Homo sapiens: one gene and its partner. The protein of the gene in region 2 interacts with the protein of the main gene of each other region in a pairwise test. Each region holds a gene or a part of one and is shown on either strand. Other genes may lie near its edges.

Region 1 (3,500 bases), on a different chromosome or scaffold from region 2:
TGGGGAAAAGAAAGAGAGATCAGATTGTTACTGTGTGTAGAAAGAAGTAGACATAGGAGACTCCATTTTGTTCTGTACTAAAAAATTCTTCTGCCTTGGGATGCTGTTAATCTATAACCTTACCCCCAACCCTGTGCTCTCTGAAACATATGCTGTGTCCACTAAGGGTTAAATGGATTAAGGGCGGTGCAAGATGTGCTTTGTTAAACAGATGCTTGAAGGCAGCATGCTCGTTCAGAGTCATCACCACTCCCTAATCTGAAGTACCCAGGGACACAAACACTGCAGAAGGCGGCAGGGCCCTCTGCCTAGGAAAACCAGAGACCTTTGTTCACATGTTTATCTGCTGACCTTCCCTCCACTATTGTCCTGTGACCCTGCCAAATCCCCCTCTCCGAGAAACACCCAAGAATGATCAATAAATACTAAAAAAATTTAAAAAAAAAAAGAAAAAAATGTATTTAATATTGATGAATGTTGGAACACTTTACATAGATATACTTGGATTTTCTCAGTAGATATGAAAATAAATCCCCTTGTTCTCCTTGGTTAAGTTTTTATTTATGTTGAAATTAATACATCTCTTCTCTAGAATTCTGTTTTGTATATGGTCTGCAAACTGGAATGCTACAGAAAAACTCCACAAAGCTGATGATGAATATGCAAACAAGAGGGGGAAGCCCTCTCATCCTCCTCCCACTGGGGGAAACGAAAGCACAGAGGTCATTCAGCAAATGAATCTCCAAGTGGAAAAATATAATTACAAGGAGTTTGGTAAAACTTTCTACTTGGAAATAAAAATTACAGAGAACTAGACTGGGAAGAAATCTTTCTTGCTGTGTCTTCCTCTTGCTATCTTTTCTAGAAGAAAAGCCTGGAAATGAGAAGCCTTCGGAATAAATGAAGAATTCAAAAGATTTTGATGTCAAAGTACTATGCTGACATTCAGAGAGATGGCAGGTAGGGGCTTTTGCAAGGACACATTTTGACATCCAGTAAGAGTCAAGGTGAGGTATAAAAATAACAGTTTGATATTCTATCTATTTAGTTGTTCTTGTTGTGATGAAAAATTTCAAAAACTTGTAGAAAAGTATAGATGTCAGAATAATGAACCAACATGTAATCATCATTCAGCTTAGACAATTATCAAACAGAGTTTTTAACAAGGTTAATCTTGTTTCATCAAGATACATTTGGAAAAAACATTAAAGTCTGCGAGTTTATTCTTCGTAGTCCCTAGAGTTCTACATTACAGGAAGTAAGATGTGTTACTTTAACTGTGGTTGACAACTGCTGAAGACACTTGTCCTCTGCCTGTTATTGTTTCTCAAACACTGCCACTACATTTCTTGTCTAAGTTTTATAAAGTTAAAAGATGAAATTTAAGTTTTTTTCAGTTACCTATTCTAATATATTCAAATATTTCTGAAGAACATATACTTTAGCCCTAAAATGCCTTTCTGTTCTGAGAGTGTACATTTTTTTGTACCATAATATATTAAAATAGATTAAACATACTGGTTTTAGCTAAGATAATTTAGCTTTAGTTAACATTCACTAGTGATTTACTATAGATCTTTTTTTTTATTACACTTTAAGTTCTTGCATACATGTGCAAAACATGCAGGTCATAGGTATACACGTGCCACGGTGGTTTTCTGCACCCATCAACCCGACATCTACATTAGGTATTTCTCCTAATGCTATCCCTCCCCTAGCCTCCCACCCCAAGACAGGCCCTGTTGTGTGATGTTCCCCTCCCTGTGTCCATGTATTCTCATTGTTCAACTCCCACTTATGAGTGAGAACATGCAGTGTTTGGTTTTCTGTTCTTGTGTTAGTTTGCTGAGAATGATGGTTTCCAGCTTCATCCATGTCCCTGCAAAGGACATGAACTCATCCTTTTTTACGGCTGCATGATTTACTATAGATCTTAATTGCTACTTGAGAATAATCTTTACAAAATGCTTACCAATATTAGCATAATGTTTCTTTTCTTGTGTGTTTGTAGATAGTTCATACATGTCTCCATAAGCACGAGCAAATCGCCACATAAACTCTATTTCATCTCTAAACTGAAAAGAAAAGATGGAGTTGCCTGTTAAATTAACTTGGTAACTTGTCTATTCTATTCTTGTTTTCTACTGCAACTTTTTAAAAACTTAGGCAGGTAAACTGGTATTTATAGATTATTGAATCTATGTATATGCATATTTCGTGTGAAACATTTTTAATCCAAATACTCATGGCTAAGAAATATGACCTAATGTAGTGTTACATTTGGATCTTAAAACCAATTAATATTATCCAGACACTAGCTCCATCTATGCAGAGAAGAGATTTGATAGGCACCAAAATCTAGAAATTCTTCCTGAGCTGTGGCATCCTTTTCTTCTTTTCCTTTCCAAGTTATCTATTATCAATATAATGAGCATCTCAGTTAATATCTGTAAATTGAAAATGCATATACTCAAAAGAGCAGTCACTTTTTTTACTCAAATTACCTAAATATAATCCTGGAGAGCTATCAAGTTTTAGACAATGTGTTTAGAGTTGCTAAATCCTCAGACAAATAGAGATTTATTTCTCCATGGGACACTGCAAACTTTTAATTTTTAATTTTATTTTATTTTATTTTATTTTTTTTAGTGGTGGTGGTAAGAGCTCTGGACAGGCTTTTCTTATTCAGACCCAACACTAAACACTGCAAAATCAACAAATGACCATTGGTAGAAATAGCTTTGAATACCCATATCTGTCTCAAAATATTTGTTAAATATATAAATTAGTAAAAAAAAAAAATCAAATAAAAGTAAATCTGCGTAATTATAGCTCTGGTTCTCATTTTTATGACCTTAGAGTCTAATAAACTTTTACATTTACTTTTTTAAAATTTTATGCATCTTAAATAAAAAATAAATTTTAAAAAATTTTAGTCATTTTATAGAGAAATTTTACATCAATCATCAAAATGTGGGAACCATGACACAATTATTATAGTTATAACTGAAACAGATGGCAGATTAAATTAAAAAATGGAACTATACGAAGTGCTATTGTTATGTCTCTTACCTTTTCTTTGTGGTCACGAAGTAGTTCAAAACTCTCCGACTTGCCAGACTCACTCATACGTAAATGATCTACCTTCTGAAGAAGGACATCTAAATTTAATTCCTCTACACGTGTGTTAAATGCCTTAGGGACTGGAAAACTCTGTTCTTCTGTGTCAGTATTAGCTGTAATATACCTAAAATCGCAGAAATAATCATCAACTCCTTTGAAAGTTAAGTATAATAGCCAGAGCATTCCTTTTAAAATGCAAGTCAAATCATGCCCCTCTTATGCTTGAAACTCTGCAGTGGCACGTGCTTTCACTCAGAAAAAGCTCCAGTCCTAACAGAAGTCTACAAGTCCCTGCGCAATTTGCCCACGATCTCGTTACCTCTTTGATCTCATTTCCTACTACTCTTCTTATTCAAATACACACAGGTCACCTAGCT
Region 2 (3,500 bases):
TAGCAAGGTTTAAGACAGATGACCTGAAGTTTCTGCAATTAAAATTTAAGGCCCGGTGCAGTCGTTCATGTCTGTAATCCCAGCACTTTGGGAGGCCGAGGCAGAACAATCACTTGAACCTGGGCAACATGTCAAAACCCACTCTCTGCAAAAAATACAAAAAATTGGCCGGGCATGGTGGCTCATGCCTATAATCCCAGCACTTTGGGAAGCCGAGGCGGATGGATCACCTGAGGTCAGGAGTTCGAGACAAGCCTGGCCAACATGGCGAAACCCCATCTCTACTAAAAATACAAAAATTAGCAGGGTGTGGTGGCATGCACCTGTAATCCCAGCTACTTGGGAGGCTGAGGCAGGAGAATCGCTTGAACCCGGGAGGTGGAGGTTGCAGTGACCCGAGATCACGCCATTGCACTCCAGCCTGGGCGACAAGAGCAAAACAAAATTCCATCTCAAAAAAAAAAAAAAAAAAGAAAAAATTAGTAGGGCATGATGGCACATGCCTGTAGTCCCAGCTACTTGGGAGGCTGAGATGAGATAATCACCTGAGCCTGGGAAGTGGAGGCTGCAGTGAACAGTGATTGTTCTATTGGAGGCCAGCCTGGTGACAGAGTGAGACCCTGTCTAAAAAACAGTTAAGAAAGCAACATCAGAACTTTAATACCTTTCTAAAGTAATTGGAGAATTCTTACTCTCAAAACACTGTAATTAATGATGACGATAACAGAGTAAAACAACAATCTTGGTATTTCATGCTTATTTTGTTAATATTCACATTAGACATAGTATCCATCATTTTCTAAACTTTGTTCTGTTGCTGTTTAGCCTGAGAGGTCCAAGACTGAGGTTATACTGTCCTTCTCAATTCAGCCTCTTAGAGTAGAATGATGGTAGAAGATTCTAATTAAAACAAATGATCTTATAGGAGGAGGAGTCAGGCTCCAATATAATGGAATTAACATTGAAAGTACATACGGAATCTAGCTCTGATAAAATGGGTAATCAGATTCTAGGGCAAGAAATGGGAATTGGGCCTGGGCACTTCACTCTTTCTTTCCTCCCTTAGTCCTTCTCTTATATTATCATCTTTCAGTGCACATCTAGTCCTCTCAGACTAAGAGGACTCAAAGTGATCACTGGAAGGAGAAATACAAATGACCCAAAATATAGTACAGTAAAATTTACAAATAATCCAAGAAACAGAAATTAAAACAAGATACCTCAAAGAGTTTGTTTTAAGGGAAGGGATGTTGTTGGAATATTATCCAAAACTCTGCATGATTTAAGTTTTTAACTTTCATGCAGCATGTAATTCTCTAGGTAAGTCTCAATACATGAATGACTCTGATTTCTATCTGAAGATCATTAAAATAACAGTATTACAACAAATATACCAAAAAAAAAAAAATCACAGTTAAATTTTCTTAGGGGAAGAGAGGTTCAGCCCTAAGATAGATATGGTAAATTGGCTTGGCTTGTTCAATCTCTATTCTATAATCCTTCTTCCAATGTATCTCTTGTGTTACAGAGGCAGGAAAGCTACATCTGAAATTTCCCAAATTATCTTGCAGCTAGGATTCTAGATATAAATCAGGGTTTCCCCAAGTAGGTGTATGGTGTAAGAGATTTGGAAGGTGGAAGAAGAGCAGAAGTCCACTTTTTGCTTCTTTGGCTTTTGTTTCAACTGTTCTTTTTTTTTTTTTTTTTTAAATAAAGGCAAAGTCTCAATCTGTCACCAAGGCAGAGTGCAGTGGCCTCATCAAAGCTCATCACAGCCTTGAACTCCTGGGTTTAAGCAATCCTCCTGCGTCAGCCTCCTGAGTAGCTAGGGCTAGAGATGCATGCCACCATGCCCAGCTAATTCTTTAAAATAATTTTTTGTAGAAACAAGGTCTCTCTATATTGCCCAAGCTGGTCTCAAACTGCTGGCCTCAAGTGATCCCCCCACTGCTGGCCTTGTTCTTTCATTTGTCTGTTCTCTCATTCCTTCTCTTCCCTCCATCCTTCTCTCTCTTTTTTTTTTTTTTTTTTTTTTTTTTTTTTTTGCTATGAAACAAAGCTGTGGAGGCAAAATGTTTCTATAGCAGTATTCCAATATGGATTCTCCAGCTTCTTGATAACACAGCTGCAGGTGTGGTAGAGACAGTGGAGAGACTCCAAGTTCCAATACCAAGGTATCACTTTGTTAGGTTATTGAGAGGCAGATGTGGTGATGGCTTTTGTTTTGTTTTGTTTTGTTTTGTTTTGTTTGAGACAGAGTCTTGCTCTATCGCCCACGCTGGAGTGCAGTGGCGCGATCTTGGCTCACTGCAAGCTCAGCCTCCTGGGTTTACGCCATTCTCCTGCCTCAGCCTCCCGAGTAGCTGGGACTACAGGCGCCCGCCACCAAGCCCGGCTAATTTCTTTTTGTATTTTTACTAGAGATGGGGTTTCACAGCATTAGCCAGGAAGGTCTCAATCTCCTGACCTGGTGATCCGCCCGCCTCGGACTCCCAAAGTGGTGATGGCTTCTAATTCCTGGATTGTAACTATGATCATGATCACGTGCTCTTGTCTTCATGAGCATATAGCAACTTTGATAGAGCTTGATCCTGTAGGCCTTCCGATGATAATCTAACCATTAATTCCCTATGTTAAATTCCTTTCTGCTTATGGCACATAGACAGGTTCCTGTTTACTGCATTAACAGGGGTCCTCAACCCCCAGGCCTGCACAGCACTGGTACCGGTCCATGGCCTGTTAGGAATACAGCCCGAGGCCAGCAGGATGGTGGGCCAGTGGGTGAGCAAGCGTTACTATCAGAGCTCCGCCTCCTGTCAGATCAGTGGCAGCATTAGATTCTCATAGGAGCAGGAACCCTATTGTGAAATGTGCATGTGAGAGATCTAGGTTGTGAGCTCCTTATGAGAATCTAACTAATGCCTGATGATCTCAGGTGGAACAGTTTCATCCTGAAACCATCCTCCATCTGGAAAAACTGTCTTCCACGAAACAAGTCCCTGGTGCCAAAAACCAGTCACTGTGCATTAGGATGTATGGGTGACACAGTACTTAGTATCTAGAAGTAGGGCTGACTCAGCAGAACCTGAAATATGTTCCACTGGCTGAGTAATCAAGTGGTAGATGGCAAGAAAACATGCCTTACAAGCTTTCAGCTCTTCAAAAGAAGGCCTTTCTCAGTCAGTGGCCTGAGATCTAAGTTGAATGAAAGTGGTAATAGGGGTAGAGGGGGTTACAGGTCTCATAGGTGGTAAAGCCCAAACACAGGAAATAAGATGGCTGCTCCTAGCCTTTCCCAAGAAGAATCCCGTGATAAGAGTTACAGGTTAGCTGGACATGGTGGCACCTGCCTGTAGTCCCAGCTACTTGAGAGGCTGAAGTGGTAGGATCACCTGAGCCAGGAGTTGGAGGCTGCAGTGAGTTATGATGGTTAACACTGCATTCCAGCCTAGGCAACAGTGCAAGACCCTGTCAAAAAAAAAAAAAAAGTTGTGGCTTTA

What was found. Proteins that work in one complex are often made in the same cells at the same time.
Region 1: the proteins of VEZT (region 2) and RMDN2 interact in a two-hybrid assay, tested with the Homo sapiens proteins (one large-scale study listed by BioGRID).

What each region holds. Positions count from the first base shown.
Region 1 is NC_000002.12:37,973,787-37,977,286, reverse strand, and holds part of RMDN2 (regulator of microtubule dynamics protein 2), read right to left. Parts: intron 3,248-3,500; coding exon 3,073-3,247; intron 2,076-3,072; coding exon 1,973-2,075; intron 1-1,972.
Region 2 is NC_000012.12:95,224,307-95,227,806, reverse strand, and holds part of VEZT (vezatin), read right to left. Parts: intron 1-3,500. UniProt on the Homo sapiens protein: Plays a pivotal role in the establishment of adherens junctions and their maintenance in adult life.